Regions from separate parts of the Homo sapiens genome. Here region 2 is linked to region 1. The links come from fine-mapping of genetic effects on gene expression. A gene starts in region 1. The other region holds a variant in brackets. All regions are shown on one strand. Distances are between the middles of the regions. Region 1 holds the start of IDUA (alpha-L-iduronidase). Region 2 overlaps TMEM175 (transmembrane protein 175).

Region 1 (8,108 bases):
AGGTCCTCATGGGCGTCCTCCGGCTGGGCTTCGTGTCCGCCTACCTCTCACAGCCACTGCTCGATGGCTTTGCCATGGGGGCCTCCGTGACCATCCTGACCTCGCAGCTCAAACACCTGCTGGGCGTGCGGATCCCGCGGCACCAGGGGCCCGGCATGGTGGTCCTCACATGGCTGAGCCTGCTGCGCGGCGCCGGGCAGGCCAACGTGTGCGACGTGGTCACCAGCACGGTGTGCCTGGCGGTGCTGCTAGCCGCGAAGGAGCTCTCAGACCGCTACCGACACCGCCTGAGGGTGCCGCTGCCCACGGAGCTGCTGGTCATCGTGGTGGCCACACTCGTGTCGCACTTCGGGCAGCTCCACAAGCGCTTTGGCTCGAGCGTGGCTGGCGACATCCCCACGGGTTTCATGCCCCCTCAGGTCCCAGAGCCCAGGCTGATGCAGCGTGTGGCTTTGGATGCCGTGGCCCTGGCCCTCGTGGCTGCCGCCTTCTCCATCTCGCTGGCGGAGATGTTCGCCCGCAGTCACGGCTACTCTGTGCGTGCCAACCAGGAGCTGCTGGCTGTGGGCTGCTGCAACGTGCTACCCGCCTTCCTCCACTGCTTCGCCACCAGCGCCGCCCTGGCCAAGAGCCTGGTGAAGACAGCCACTGGCTGCCGGACACAGCTGTCCAGCGTGGTCAGCGCCACCGTGGTGCTGCTGGTGCTGCTGGCGCTGGCACCGCTGTTCCACGACCTACAGCGAAGCGTGCTGGCCTGCGTCATCGTGGTCAGCCTGCGGGGGGCCCTGCGCAAGGTGTGGGACCTCCCGCGGCTGTGGCGGATGAGCCCGGCTGACGCGCTGGTCTGGGCAGGCACCGCGGCCACCTGTATGCTGGTCAGCACAGAGGCCGGGCTGCTGGCTGGCGTCATCCTCTCGCTGCTCAGCCTGGCCGGCCGCACCCAACGCCCACGCACCGCCCTGCTGGCCCGCATCGGGGACACGGCCTTCTACGAGGATGCCACAGAGTTCGAGGGCCTCGTCCCTGAGCCCGGCGTGCGGGTGTTCCGCTTTGGGGGGCCGCTGTACTATGCCAACAAGGACTTCTTCCTGCAGTCACTCTACAGCCTCACGGGGCTGGACGCAGGGTGCATGGCTGCCAGGAGGAAGGAGGGGGGCTCAGAGACGGGGGTCGGTGAGGGAGGCCCTGCCCAGGGCGAGGACCTGGGCCCGGTTAGCACCAGGGCTGCGCTGGTGCCCGCAGCGGCCGGCTTCCACACAGTGGTCATCGACTGCGCCCCGCTGCTGTTCCTAGACGCAGCCGGTGTGAGCACGCTGCAGGACCTGCGCCGAGACTACGGGGCCCTGGGCATCAGCCTGCTGCTAGCCTGCTGCAGCCCGCCTGTGAGAGACATTCTGAGCAGAGGAGGCTTCCTCGGGGAGGGCCCCGGGGACACGGCTGAGGAGGAGCAGCTGTTCCTCAGTGTGCACGATGCCGTGCAGACAGCACGAGCCCGCCACAGGGAGCTGGAGGCCACCGATGCCCATCTGTAGCAGGGCCAGGCCTGCCCAGCAGCCTCTGCTCCCTCCTGGGGACCCACAGCAGACGTCTGCAAGCCACTGCTGAGACCCTTCCCAGGGAGGAGCCACCCAAGAGCTGCACTCTTGTGCCACAGCTGCCCTGGGGAAACCGGGGAACCCCAACTGGGAAAGGAGGCCCTCTGATCACACGCAGGACCCAAACACTCAGAAATCAAGAACCTCTGCCTCCGAGACAGGCTGGCCCACAGTGCTGGCTGGGCCCCAATGCACCGTCCCTCAGCTCAGGAGGGATGGGCCTGACCTGACGCTCAGGGTTGACATCTTATTTGAACAAGGGTCCCCCGCCATCATGCAGCCTCCAAGGTGCCAAGAGGACTCCCTATGCCCAGGCCTGCCCGGTGCCCACCCTGCTGGTAGGAGCCAGCGGCTCTGGCCAAGTGCACGAGGGTCTCTGTGTTTCCAGAAGGCCCCACACACCCAAGTGCCCCTCACACCTCGTGCCTCCCCCTCACAGGGTGGCCACCTGCACCAGCGTCAGGGCCCAGGGTGCTGTGACCGATGAGACCTCAGCTCAGCCCTCAGGTGCAGTGGCCCTACCCAGCCTGGCCAGCAGACACACACAGGGATGCTCACGGGTGCACCAGGAGCCAGGTGCGGCGCAGCCAACCCTGAGCCTGCAGGGAGACCTGCAGGAAGCCCACCGTGCCCCATGCAGGGGCTCCCTCCAGCACACAGCCCTCACCCCAGCACAGCCAGCAAGGACACGCTCTCCCCAACAGGGTGCTTCGGCGGGAGGTGGGGGAACAAGGGGTCTTCCGAGCAGCCCCCAGCCCTCCCCTCCCATCTGTGCCTCTGTAAGGGGCTCTGGGACGCCCAGACCCTGCCCGCCGCCCACCTGGTGGTGACAAGCTCCAGCAGCCAGTGGGTCCGGACCTGCTTGATGCCGCGGTGAGGGACGGCGCCCACATAGGCGAGGTTGAGCTGCTGGTCCCAGCTGAGGACGTACTGGTCAGCCTGGCTGTGTGGCAGCGGGGGGCTGGGGACAACAAAGGGGCGGCTCAGTCCCGAGCCTCAGCATGGCTGGCAGCGCGGCTGACACACACGTTCAAGCCCAGGACTGCCCGGGCGCAGGATCCAGGCGCTGCCCGTGCGTTCAGTGACTAATAAAATGACCCTTAGGGCCAGGAATGTGGGGAGGTCCCATCTTCATGGGGAACGGCAGCAGCAGTAAGACGAGGGGCCAACGCCAGCCCTGGCCCTGGCCCTGCCAGGAAGGCGGGTACCTCAGCTCTAGGTGGAAGGAATGGGACAGGCAGGCCAGGTCCCGCTGCAGGGCCGTCCACTCCCAGGGGAGACTCCTGGTTTACCTCAAAGAGCAGGATCCCGGGCATCGGCCTGGGCTGCAGGGGGCGGCCCAGGCTCACGCCCCGGCGCCCACTCAGGTGGAGGACCCACCCACAAACACGGCGGGGGGCGGGCCCGGGAGAGCCAGGGCCCCAGAGGAGGGAGCTCCGGTCTCTGAAGCTCTCACAGTGCGCAGTCAGGGGGCGCCCGAGCTCTCCCCGTGCGGCCAGGGGGTCCCGGAGGCCGCGGAGCGCTCACCAGAAGCCTGTGCTCCTCCAGAAGCGCCGCAGGGGCCACAGCGCGCGGGCCGCGTCCACATGCACCAGGTGCGGGGCCTCGGCCGGGGCCACCGGGGGCGCGGCCAGGAGCGAGGCCAGGAGCGCCAGCAGCGCGGCGCGGGGGCGCAGGGGACGCATGGCCACGCGTGCTCGGGGACTGCGGGGCTTCGGGCTGCACTGCCGGTTCCGCCTCCGGGTCGGAGTCTGGGCGCGCACCCCATGTGACCGCCGCCGCGGGGCGGGGCCTTGGTGAGGGGGCGATGGCCGGGTGGGAGGGGTTGGGTGGCCTCGGGGAGCCTCGGGGAGCCGGGAGCACGGCAGGGCTTGGAGCCCCGCTTCCTTGCGGGCCTCAGGGGCTGCTCTGAGGACCGATGACTCGGAAAGCGCTCAGAAGAACGCTTCGCCCGTTGGTGCTATGTGAGTTGAGCCATTACTGTCTTGTTTTTCTCTGTTTTTGTGTGTTTTTGAGACAGAGTCTTGCTTTGTCGCCCAGGCTGAGGTGCAGTGGCGCGATCTCAGCTCACTGCAACCTCCATCTCCGGGGCTTCAGCGATTTTCTCACCCCAGCCTCCTGAGTAAAGCGTGCGCTTTAGCAGGAAGGAGAATTACCCCAGAAGAGCACACTGGGCCCTCCTTACACTTGGCTTCAGATCCATGGATTCAACCAAGCAGACTGAAAATATTGTTTTAAAGCCAAAGCAATACGAAATAATACATATTTTAAAACAATACAGTATAACAGCTATTTACAGAGCATTTACATTGTTTTAGGGACTATAAGTAATCTTGATTTAAACTACACAGTAGGATGTGCGTAGGTAATGTGCAAATACTGTGCCATTTTATATCAAGTACTTGAGCACCTGCAAATTTTGGTATCTGGGAGGGTCCTGGAACCAATACCCCGAGGATACCATGGGACAACTGTAGTACATGTGTAGTCCATGTATGCATGTGTGAATCCAAGCAAACATTGTATAAAAATAATAATGGAAAGAACAGGCTTGGTGCGGTGGCTCACACCTGCAATCCCAGCACTTTGGAATTGCAGGCCAACACGGGAGGATCACTTGAGGCCTGGAGTTTGAAATCGGCCTGGGAGATGTACCAAGACCCCATCTGTACAAAAAAAAAATTTAGCCAGATGCGATGGTATATGCCTGTGAGGCCCAGCTACCCACGAAATTGAGGTGGGAGATTGCTTGAGCTTAGGAGTTCAAGGCTGAGACGGGCCATGATCACACCACTACATTCCAGCCTGGTTGACAAAATGAGACCCCATCTCTAAAAAAAGAAAAGAAAAAAAGAACAGTCTACTAACAAAACGAAAATACTGGACAATAATCCTCTCTAAGTTGGGAGAAGGATAATTAGAGTTACAGTGTTCTGGGTCTTTTTATTTTGGGGAGAGGGGTTAAAATATTGCTTAACATTAGGTCTTCTTATGTTGAAATTGCATTAAAAGTGATTAGCCATTTAAAAGTGAAATAGTGTGTATATATTCCAAATTAGCAAGGAGGAAAAACATAATACAAAAAAATTCATTAAGAAACTAAAAAGTAAGAAAGGGAGGGAAAGGCGAGAGAAACCATGCAAGTACAGAACTGTCTCCAGGAACAGCGGGGTAAGACCCTCAGTCCAACGACCCCAGAGAAAACAACTAAAATGATGGATAACTCGCTTTAAAAACAATTCCTCAAAGCGTCAGAGAACTGAGAAAAACAGTAAGAAACCACCAGTCCCACACCGTGGTGCAGGACACAGCAATGGAAACTGAATTGTTTCAGACCAGCCGCCTCCTGAGAGCAACCATCAGAACTGGAGAGCGCTGAACGGAACCGTCCAGGGCACTGGGAGCTCTGAGGAGCCTCTGAGGCCTCGGGGCTCTGCAGGGACAAGCCGGGAGGGGGCGGGGCCCGCTTTGGGGCGGCGACTCCACACCCCTGCAGCGTATCCCAGCCACACAAGACATGGCGACACGCTGCTGCGTTCGTTCCTCACACTGTGGCCACAGGACAGAAGTCGAGGCTCAGGCGGGGGGCCTGGTAAAGACTTTGGGTTTTTCTTGGGACCCCAAAGTTCTATCCCCTAAAAGCAAAGGTAAACCAGCAACAGAATTGTCTTTGTGGGGACTGAAGCCAGCCTTAAATCACCTCAAGCCCTGAGAGAATTAAGGTGAGCCGCTCACCGGGACACCTGTGGACAGAAAAGTACACCTTCCCTGGAGGAAGGTAAAACAAAACAAAAACAGACAGAAGTCCTCACTGCACGGTGCTGGAATGGATCCGGGTCAGGAAAAATTATTACAAAGTGCATGATGGGGACATTCACAATTTGGAATATGCCTTGTACATTGTGCAACAAAATTCTACCAATGATAAACTCCAGAATTTTTTTTGTTTTTGTTTTTTGTTTTTTTAAACGAAGTCTCACTCTGTTGTCCAGGCTGGAGTGCAGTGGTGCGATCTCAGCTCATTGCAACCTCTGCCTCAGCCTCCTGAGTAGCTGGGATTACAGGCATGAGCCACCACGCCCAGCCAATTTTTGTATTTTCAGTAGAGACAGCGTTTTACCATCCTGGCCAGGCTGGTCTCGACCTCCTGACCTCGAATGATCCACCTGTCTCGGCCTCCCAAAGTGCTGGGATTATAGGCATGAGCCACCGCGCTGGGTCAAACTCCAGAATTATTAAACGACTCAATGATTGCATCACGGTTGTGAATGGAGATTTTTTGTTCATTTGTGATCCATGCTGAAGGGTTTAGAGGTGAAGAATCAATAGATTTGTAACCAAAGTTGCTCTGGAAATTAAAGCAAAACAATAAATTTAGATTACATACAGAGACTGAGATAAAAGCAAAGGTAGCAAAATATTAACAGTTGGTGAACCTGGGTGAAAACTATATACTGTTATTGCAACTTTTCTGTGAGTTTGAAATTTTTCAAAATGAAAACATTGAAAAAAATATTAAAACCTCATGAAACTTAGTAAAAATTTATTGAATGATACACTTGAACTTGCTTCATTTTATTGTATGTAAATCATATCTCAGTAAAGCTGATAACGAATTGGTTTAACAGCAAATTAAATCCAACTAGGCTGAGCAAGGTGGCTCATGCCTGTAATCCCAGCACTTTGGGAGGCTGAGGCGGGCAGATCACCTGAGGTCAGGAGTTCGAGACCAGCCTGGCCAACATGGTGAAACCCTGTCTCTACCAAAAATACAAAAATTAGCCGGGCGTGGTGGCATGCGTCTGTAATCCCAGCTACTCAGGAGGCTGAGGCAGGAGAATTGCTTTAACCTGGGAGGCAGAGGCTGCAGTGAACCAAGATCACGTCACTGCACTCCAGCCTGGGCAACAGAGTGAGACCCTGTTTCAAAAAGAAAAGACAAAATTAAATGGTGTTCTTCAAGTAGAAAGAATGATGTCCCAAATCCCAGCTCAGAGGTGCAGAGGAAGAAGTGAAGAGTGCGGGGGGAAGGGAAAACCTCCCCTGCCTTTCTGAAGTTTCACTAAAAGGGTACACAGATTTCTTGGATTGTAGTTTTATGTGACACAGCAGCTTTCAGAGCAAAGACCTAAAGGCGCAGGGGAAACCACATTTTTATACTCAGGTTCTGTGAATCTGGAAATAGGATTGGACGAAAGGTTAAGACCTGACAGGCTAACAGACTCCTGGGGGAGCCCAGCGAGGCCCATCTGCTTCGGTTCCTGGAGGCCTCTCTCTGCAGCTCTCCCTCCTGCTGGGTGGGGGCACAACGCCCCGGAATAGGGGTCTGACCACATACAGTCAAACAAGGCAGGCCAGAGAATTCCTTTATGGCCAGTTTTTACACAGAAAGACAGAGAAAAGTTATTAGAGTCATACTTTTAGGTTTATGGCTGGCTTTGGGGAAAAGGGGCTTAGGTTTCTACGACCTGCCTGGGACAATGAGGGGCCAGAGACAGGAGGCAGGAGAAGGCCTGGCTTCCAAGGCCTTCACTCTGGGTGACATTTTCTGAACCCCAACAAAAGCAACAGAAACGGTATATTGTGTATAAACCTAATGAATCGTAACCGCATAAAACAATCATGTTACAGGGTTTCACATATTTCTGGGGAATTAGGATTTACAGCAAGAGTGGCACAGGTGCTGTATGGGAAAAGTGAAGTGAGAGGGGAGGAGAGCCTCCTGAAGACGCCCTCCGTCCTGTCCAGGCCCGCGCCTGTCGCCTCACATGGCGAGCGCCTGCAGGCATGGTTCCGTGAAGCATCCAAGACGTAGAGATGATTCTAGTTATCCGAGTGGGCCCTGAGTGTAATCCCAGTGTTCCTATACAGGGGAGACGGAGGGGGGTTTGACACAGAGGAGGCTGTAACGGCCTCAGGAGAGATTGAAAGATTGTTCTAAAATGTGTCCCCAGGGTTTATTTCAGTGAGGTGTGGGGAGACACACGGACCCGGCCACGACAGGCCAGGAGGAAGGCCTTGCTGTGTGTAGAGACGTGTGCGATTCCGATTTAGATTTTGGGGCTCTGTGAGGCAAGAGATTCACACAGGTCTCTACCCTGCAGGGGACACCTTTTGGGCAATGGCCCAGTGGCTTATAATAAACGTGGGGAAGAAGCCACTGGTCGGCGGAGGCCCTCAGGGCTGAGACCACGCCTGGCACATTGCTTCCAGGTCCGCCTTTCACTGGGGGCGTCCGGGCAGGGGTGGAGCAGCAGCCGTCCACCGGGCTCCCCAGCAGTGTGGCCAGCAGCACCGTACCCTCACGCACGCACCCATTTCTCTTCGCTCAGAGGGTCCCACAGGGCTTGCCAGGCAGCCCAGGGGTTTACGGGAGGTGACCTCCTCCCACACTTGGCATCCGGCAAGCCACCGAGGACAGGGGAAGCCGCCCCCTCCCACAGATGGAAGACAGCAAGGGGCAGCTTTGCCTCCATCCTGCCTAGAGAGGCCTCTCTGAGGCCAAGCTGAGCT
Region 2 (8,108 bases), 33 kb after region 1:
GTTGCTGGGAGGGGGCAGCTCCCCTGGCCATGGCTCCAGGTGGAGGAGAGGTCACTGTCCCGGCCCCACGCTGCTGCCTCTCTTCGGCAGGTCCCTCCCAAGGGGAGCCTCAGCTGGCCTGCACAATCAGGCAGCTCACCCTGGAGCATCCCTGGCACCTGGGCCTTAGAGATCAGATGCCAATGAACGTTTGCTTCCCGTTTTTAAAAATGCACACGACAGCAGAGAAGAGCATCAGGAGACTTGGACTCGAGAATATCAAGTACAGGATATAAAACCATAGTGTCTAACCCCAAGGTGGTCACAGTGCTGAACTATGACGAGGGAACAAGACACTCCAAAAGGATGGAAGATGTAAAAAAGCAAATTCAAACATTACGATGGCCGGGCACGGTGGCTTACACCTGTAATCCCAGCACTTTGGGAGGCCGAGGTGGGCAGATCACCTGAGGTCAGGAGTTCAAGACCAGCCTGGCCAACTTGGTGAAACCTCATCTCTATTAAAAATGCAAAAAGTTAGCTGGGCATGGTGGTGGGTGCTTGTAATCCCAACTACTTGGGAGGCTGAGGCAGGAGAATTGCTTGAACCTGGGAGGCGGAGGTTGCAGTGAGCTGAGCTTGAGCCACTATACTCCAGCCTGGGCGACACAGCAGGACTGTCTCAAAAAAAAAAAAAAAAAAACCCCACAAAAACCAAAAACGTGACGACTGAGACGAGACGCGCGCTCTAACAGACGAAGAGGCAGATGAGGCCGCGGAGGAGCAGACGCTGGAAGGAAGCAACAGCCAGCCAAAGGGAGCAGGAGGGGCTGCGAAGCGATGGGGGGCACTGGGAGGGAGCCGGAGGGAATGGGAGGGACTAGGGACTAGGAGGGGCTGGTGTTGGGGCAGGGGTGAGGCCTGGGGCAGGGGGATACCCATGGCTGCTGAGCCCCTCTGAGAGGAGTGAGGAGAGCAGTTGGCTGCTGGTGCTGACCTCACCCTGGCACCCCATCCTCGGCTGTGCTTGGGGTGGGAGCCGCTGGGAAGGGAGGGGCCGCTGGGAAGGGAGGGGCCGCCGGGAAGGTTGTCCTCCCTGAAGTGGGGGCTGCCCTGACCTCACACAAAACTCTAGGCATCCAGAGGAGGGTGGAGCCAAGACCCCTGTGCCTTTCTGGGGTTTCCAGGATGAGACGCCAGGGACTCAAGACACATTGGCCACCTGATAGCTGGGGCAGGTGACGCGGGGTCCTCACCAGATGTCCAGGATGAGAAGCGTGGCCACGATGGCGTAGACTCCGTCGCTGAAGGCTTCCACGCGCTCCTTGCTGAGTGGCTCGTGGAGGTCAAACGAGAAGACTTCCACTGGGTGAGCCGAGGGCTCCCTGTGGCCTGGGGACACGCCAGGAGGGTGGAGCTGGCCAAACCCCCCATGTGGAGGTAGAGCCCGCGTGGCTGTCACCGCCCTCATCCATGAAGAGGCCTGGAATGTGCAGGCCAGGAGAGGAGACAGGACAGGGACGCCCGAGGGGCGGAGTGGGGGAGCCCCAGCCACCACCACGCACACGGGCCTCGGCCCACGGACAGCCCTCAGTGCGGAGCAGCCGCACGGAGGTGGGCGGACTACAGGCCTCTCAGGCCAGCCCACCCAGTCATCACCTACCCAGGAGCCTGTCTCTGCACCAGCCGGTGACCTTGCTGACATAGGGGAGGAGGATGACAGTCACCATCAGCAGGTAAGACTGCAGGGAGACAAACCGCAGGTCAGTGCCCTCCACAGGGGTCCGAGGCCAGGCCTTACCCACACAAAGCTGTGTGCCAAAGCAGGGGCTGCGGCAGAAGGGAGGGTCTTTGCAGATCATGTATCTGATGGGGCCTAGTACCCAAAAAGTGTAAAGGATTCTTAAGCCAGCACAGTGGCTCATGCCTGTAATCCCAGCACTTTGTGGGGCTGAGGCAGGTGGATCGCTTGGGCCCAAGAGTTCGAGACCAGCCTGGGCAACATAGTAAGACTGTATCTCTACGAAAAATAAAAAATTAGTCAGGTGTGACTGTGTGTGCCTGTTGAACCTGGGAGACAGGAGTTGCAGTGAGAGGTGACCCAGCTCACTGCACTCCAGCCTGGGTGACAGAGCAAGACCGTGTCTTAAAATTTATCGTCTATCTCCCTATCTGAAATTCTTACAACTCAAAAATAAAAGGACGACCCAATTAAAAATGGGCAAAGGATGAGAACAGACATTGCTCCAAACAAAACATGCAAATGGTCGACCTCTCGCAGATCAAAACCACAACGAGATTCTTCATATCCACTAGGATGGAGAGAACTGAAAAACAGCAGGTGTTGATGAGGATGTGGACAAACTGGAACCACCATGTGCTGCTGGTGGGAATGTAAAATGCTGCAGCTGCTGTGGAAGTTTGGTGGTTCCTCAAAAAATTAAACTTAAAAAATTAAACAGAATCACCAAATGACCCAGAAACTCACTGTGGGCACACACACCAACAGCCTGAGAAGACAGATCTGAAGAGACACGTGTCCAGCAATGCTCAGAGAGGCATCACTCCAGCAATGCCCACAGTGGCTCCACACGCAACAATGCTCACACCGGCGCCACTCACGGCAGCTACACGTCTCCAGCAGTGCTCACAGCGGCGCCACTCACGACACCTACACGTCTCCAGCAGTGCTTTTGTTGCCTTCTCCCTCTCCCTAGTGGCTCACATTCTCCAAGCACCAACAGCTGATGTCCCCATGAGCAGATACTGGTCTTATCCCCAGGGGCTCCTCCTCCAAACACTGTTTGATGTTTACTGTCCTGACACAGTTTTGTATAGATTCCTTATCCAAAAGAAAATAGGCTGGACGCAGTGGCTCATGCCTGCAATCCCAGCACTTTGGGAGGCTGAGGTGGGTGGATCACAAGGTCAGGAGTTCGAGACCAGCCTGGCCAACATGGTGAAACCCCGTGTCTACTAAAAATACAAAACTTAGCTGAGGGTGGTGGCAGGCACCTGTAATCCCGGCTACTCAGGAGGCTGAGGCAGGAGAATTGCTTGAACCTGGGAGGCAGAGGTTGCAATGAGCCGAGATTGCGCCAGTGCACTCCAGCCTGGCAGCAAAACTCCGTCTCAAGAAAAAAAAAAGAAAAAAAGAAAATAAAGGCTGGCGTGGTGGCTCACACTGTAATCCAGCACTTTGGGAGGCTAAGGCGGGAGGATCACTTTAGTCCAGGCATTCCAGACTAACCTGGGCAATATAGCAAGACTCTGTCTCCACAAAAAATACCAAAACTACCCAGGTGTGGTGGTGCACACCTGTAGTCCCAGCTACTTGGGAGGCTGAGGTGAGAGAATCACTTGAGCCCGGGAGGTCGAGGCTGTGGTGAGCCAAGATCACACCACTGCCCTCCGGCCTGGGTGACACAGCGAGATCTTGCCTCAATGAACAAAAAACAAAACAAGAAAACGCATGCACCCCCGGATTCCGGGTGTCGCTGTTTCTGGTCATCGTCATCGTGAAGCTTCTCTGAGAAGGACACTCAGCTGCCCCTTCCTTCGATGAGCGTCCGTCTCTGTCCTCGACAGGCTGGGTCTCGGGGCCTCAGGTGGAGCAGGCCTCCCTCCCTGGTGCCACTCACTGCAGCCCTGGGCCTCACACACAAGACCCTGGGTGGAACCCCTGCCTGTCTGCGCTCTGCCCCCACCCCCGTGTTTGTTGCTCAGCGGGGACATTGCTCCTATGGTGGCCCCCGTTCCTGCCTGGGCCCCACGGGCTGTCCCAGCACTCACCAAGGGGACAAAGAAGAGAGAGAAGATGGCCGCTGCAAAGCACAGGGCCGGGCCTTGGAGGACGATGCCCAGGACGTGTCGTCGGTACAGAGCCCTGTGGGCAGAGCGCTGGATCTGCGGGCTCAGCAGGTGCGGGAAGTGGAATGCGTACCCCACAATCAGTGCCTGCGGGAAAAGCAAGCTGTAGGACACAGGCCCCAAGAGCAGAGGGGGCCCCCACAGCAGTCAACCCCCGGGCTGCATGGCACACGCACGCAAGGGTCTCGAGGTGGGGAGGACCTGGCCCCGGGCTGCATGGCACGCGCGCACAGGGGTCTTGGGGTGGGGGAGGACCTGGCGAGTAGAGGTGGGCTTGTACCTGGGACACTTTGGGCACAGGGGCTGAGGTGGAGAGAGAACAGGAGCCCCTGCTGGCTCCTGGGGCCGCATGTGGGGGGTCTCAGGGCCCACTCTTCCCAGTCTCTGGTCAGAAAGCGGGGACTCTGGGCATGCCACATCCTATGTGTGTAGGTGGCCTCAGGAACCCTACCTGTGTGACCTGACGGCAATCGATCACTCACACATATACACACACACATACAGCACACACACACACACAGCACAGGGCCCCGGGCCCCAAGAG[G/A]GCTGATGGTGAACACACACGCACACACACACACAGAGCACAGGACCCCGGGCCCCAAGAGCACTGATGGTGAACACACACACACACACACACACACACACACAGCACAGGACCCCAGGCCCCAAGAGGGCTGATGGTGAACACACACACACACACACACACACACACAGTGCAGGCCCCCTGGGCCCCCTACCTGCACGACCCCGATGGTGATCACACACACACACACACACACACACACACACACACACACACACAGTGCAGGCCCCCCAGGCCCCCTACCTGCACGACCCCAATGGCGATCACACACACACAGAACAAGAAGATGCCCAGAGGCACATCAGGGAAGGTCACCATTAACGAAAACTGTTAAAACAAAAACAAAACCAAACCCCCCCAAATCCTAGGTTACCAGGCCCCAGAGCCTGGAACTGGGCCATGGTGAGCCTCCCCACTCCACGGGACGCTGGGAGATGCGGTGGGGCCATCACAGGATGGCGCCAGCTGGGTGCTGGGGGGCATGTGTCCAAACTGCCCCCACCCCAACCAACTCCACCAGATGTCTCAGGCCTTTAAAGCCAAAATGTCATCCGATTCATACGGAATTCCCCAGACCCCAGTTCCTTGTGGCACACAGCCCCGCACACTCAGACTAGCGGCCACTGCCAGAATTTGGAGGCACTTTCACAGCCTGAGTAGTACAGGGCGGGTGGTCGGAGGCTGTAGGGGCTGCACGCCAGGGACAGGCCTGGGATGGGCAGGGGGCTGTGGGCTCAGGGCCGGGTGGGAGCTGGGAGCGCCGGTGACTCCCTCATCGGGGCCACTGCCTCCCCTCCCCGCCAGCCTGAAAGAAGCCCCCAACAGCCCAACAGCTGGCTCTCCCCAGAACCTTCTCTCTTCTCTACAACCGTGTGGCCTGGGCCCTGGGCCATCCAGCTGGTCTGCTTTTGAGGACAGGTCAAATCCAGTGGTGCCCAGCAAAGCCTCAGGGTGTCAGGGGCCTGGTGTTGCTCACCGTGTAAGGCAGGAAGGTGATGGTCATCATGCAGGCCTGGAGGGAGGGAGGGCATCACAGCCATGATGCGGCCTGGGGAGAAGGGCAGGGGAATGGACAGAGCCCACTCCGGGAAGGCACAGGGCTGGGCCCTCCCCAAGAAGGGTGGGCCAGCGAGTGTGAGTCCAGCCCCCAGACCCTGCAGGGCCAGATGGGGGCACTCATCCTCTCTGTCCCCTACACCTGTGCCCAACCCAGTGCCCCTGGTCCCCCACACCCTGGCTGTGTCTGGGAGGAGATATAGGCTGGCGACCCATGGGGAGGGAAAGATCATTCAAGGAGCTCCCAGCTGTGGACAGATTCCAGGCTCCGAGACTCCCTGGAGGTCACGAGAGAGGCCGGCTGCTCCCTTCCCCTCTTCCCTGAGGGTCAGATTACAGACCAGAGTCACTCCCCAGAAAAGGACCGGAAAATACTCACCAGGTTGAGCAGGGCAAGTGTGTCGTCTGTTTTCCCAACAACTTGGAACAACCTAAACCATTTAAGAAAAAGATAGACAATAAAACGCGGTTGTAGTAACATTAAATGCACACACACTCTTTCCAGCATCTTCTGGTTAAAACATCATTAAAAGATGTCACTGTTAACCAAATATAAACTACTACCTAGTGCACGGAGTTTGGAAAACACGAAGGAAATGAAGTTCCCTAGAAAGCACCCTGCTCCCATCCACACCCTGCACCATCCGCACCGCCCACACCTCCGCCTACTGCACCATCCACACCATCCACACCTCCACCTATTGCACCATCCACACCATCCACACCATCCACACCTCCACCTATTGCACCATCCACACCTCCACCTACTGCACCGTCCACACCTCCGCCTACTGCACCATCCACACCATCCACACCTCCACCTATTGCACCATCCACACCATCCACACCTCCGCCTACTGCACCATCCACACCGTCCACACCTCCACCTATTGCACCATCCACACCTCCACCTACTGCACCGTCCACACCTCCGCCTACTGCACCATCCACACTGTCCCAGGCCCTGGGTTTGGGGTAAGTCCTGCCATCCCCACGCGGATGAGGGTGGGAGGAGTAGCCTGCTGTCCTCCCCGACCCCATGGACCCGTGCGTGATGTGGTGCGGGGTACGGGAACCTTGAGAGCAGCTATGGACCGCTGGAAGCGCCCGGGCCCCCACCTTGTGTGTGCTGCCCAGGCCACTGTCACGATGAGAAAGGTCATCAGGTAGACGGCAATCCGTGTTGCCAGAAGCCTCTGTACACTTCTGTCGAACTGCTGGAATACAAGAGCACTGCTGTCAGAGCCCAGGTGACATGAGTGTCCCTGAATGGCAGTCGAGACAGCACCGTGAGGGGGGGCTGGCCTCGGCCCAGGGCAGGGCGAAACCCTCGGGTGGGTCCTGTGAGGCACCTGGGAGGGTCCTGGCCTCCCCAGCAGACCCTGAGTGCCCTGGTCTGGGTCCAGCCTCCGTCTCCAGCTGGTCTGTCTCCCCTGGCACCTGCAGCCCCCACCCCTCCAGCCCCCACCCCTTCTCCAGGGCGCTGATCCATGCCCACACCCACAGGTGTACTCCAGAGTGTTCTATGGGCTGTGTTCCTGCTGGGGGGTCAGCTCTTAATGGGCTCGGTGTCTGCTGTGGACTCCGCCTCAGGGATGGTACCCTCTGTGTATCCGCATGTGGGAGGGGACAGGAGGGCAAAAGCACCAGGTCACGAATGTCATTCATGAGGCTCTGCCATCATAACCGGGTCACCACCGAAAGGCTCTGCCTCACAACGCCATCCCTGTGAGGCGTCCGGCATGCGGACTTCGGAAGGACACACAGGTTGACAGCACAAAAGGGTCACACCTGGCACTGCCTAGGTAGGCAATTCCAAAGCAGCCACGGGAAAGGGTCTCTGTGGAAGCTGCGAGGGACCCCGAAGGCAGCCTGCCCTGGGGGCCGCGGTGGGCGTGGAGGCACCGGGGCCCTCGCCCTCCAGCCCTGGGAAGGTTTTCATGCTTTCTCCACGAACGCTCCCAACAGAACACTGAGCACTTTACTGTCTCCCTTGGTTCTTCACTTGCAGGCAGGTCTCTGGGTCAATAACTTAGTGTTTCAGTCACTTCTTAATTGAGTCCCATTTAGCTTTTCGAATCATGGGTTTTCAAAGTTACAACTGTCTTTTATTTTTCATCAGAGTGAGCACAGCCCCAGGAGTCCCCTCTCCTCACAAGGAGGTGTCCACTGTTCTAGCACCTTCCCTGGGACACACGTCAGGCCTTTCCCTCTTCACATAAATGTGTTCTCTGAATGAGCTTTTGACTCTCCAGGACTTTCTGAGACTCAGACCCTCCCTGTGACCCAGTTAGGACAACAGAGAAAAGACAGGGCACTAAACACCACAGTCCTAGAAAGGTGCCCTGGCTGCAGAGAAGTCGGAGCAGGTTTAGGTTCACAGGTTTTTATTTTCAACCACCCGGGCCCTTCATTGTCATGCGCCCTCTGGCACGGGCATCACAGGTGGATGTGGCCGTACCTCAGCGACCCCGTTCTGAAAGGGGCAGCCAAGGCCAGTACCTCACGACTGCATTTGGCCAAGCCCACCCCATGGGCCTCGGTGGGGACGCAGCTTTCCTGAGCAGCTGCCCCCCTAGGGAGGGCGGGAGCGGCTCTGGGGTCCCAGTGCCTGTGCTGC

The links.
Region 2: its variant is fine-mapped to the expression of IDUA in sigmoid colon (GTEx, PIP 0.91).

Annotation. Positions count from the first base shown.
Region 1 is chr4:982,257-990,364 of GRCh38, reverse strand. IDUA (alpha-L-iduronidase) reads right to left here and starts at 3,321. Exons shown (of 14, transcript NM_000203.5): 1 at 3,123-3,321; 2 at 2,416-2,556. The coding sequence starts at 3,280. It overlaps SLC26A1 (solute carrier family 26 member 1), which reads left to right. Exons shown (of 3, transcript NM_022042.4): 3 at 3-2,708. The coding sequence ends at 1,532. RefSeq lists enhancers at 93-592, 593-1,094, 3,675-3,734, 4,910-4,959 and silencers at 2,855-3,032, 2,815-3,464.
Region 2 is chr4:949,018-957,125 of GRCh38, reverse strand. It overlaps TMEM175 (transmembrane protein 175), which reads right to left. Exons shown (of 11, transcript NM_032326.4): 4 at 6,608-6,705; 5 at 5,868-5,919; 6 at 5,409-5,444; 7 at 4,676-4,759; 8 at 3,772-3,936; 9 at 1,643-1,721; 10 at 1,236-1,371. Among named protein-coding and RNA genes, the nearest start is that of DGKQ, 20 kb to the left of the region's middle. The variant G/A (reference allele first, on the strand shown) is at 4,394.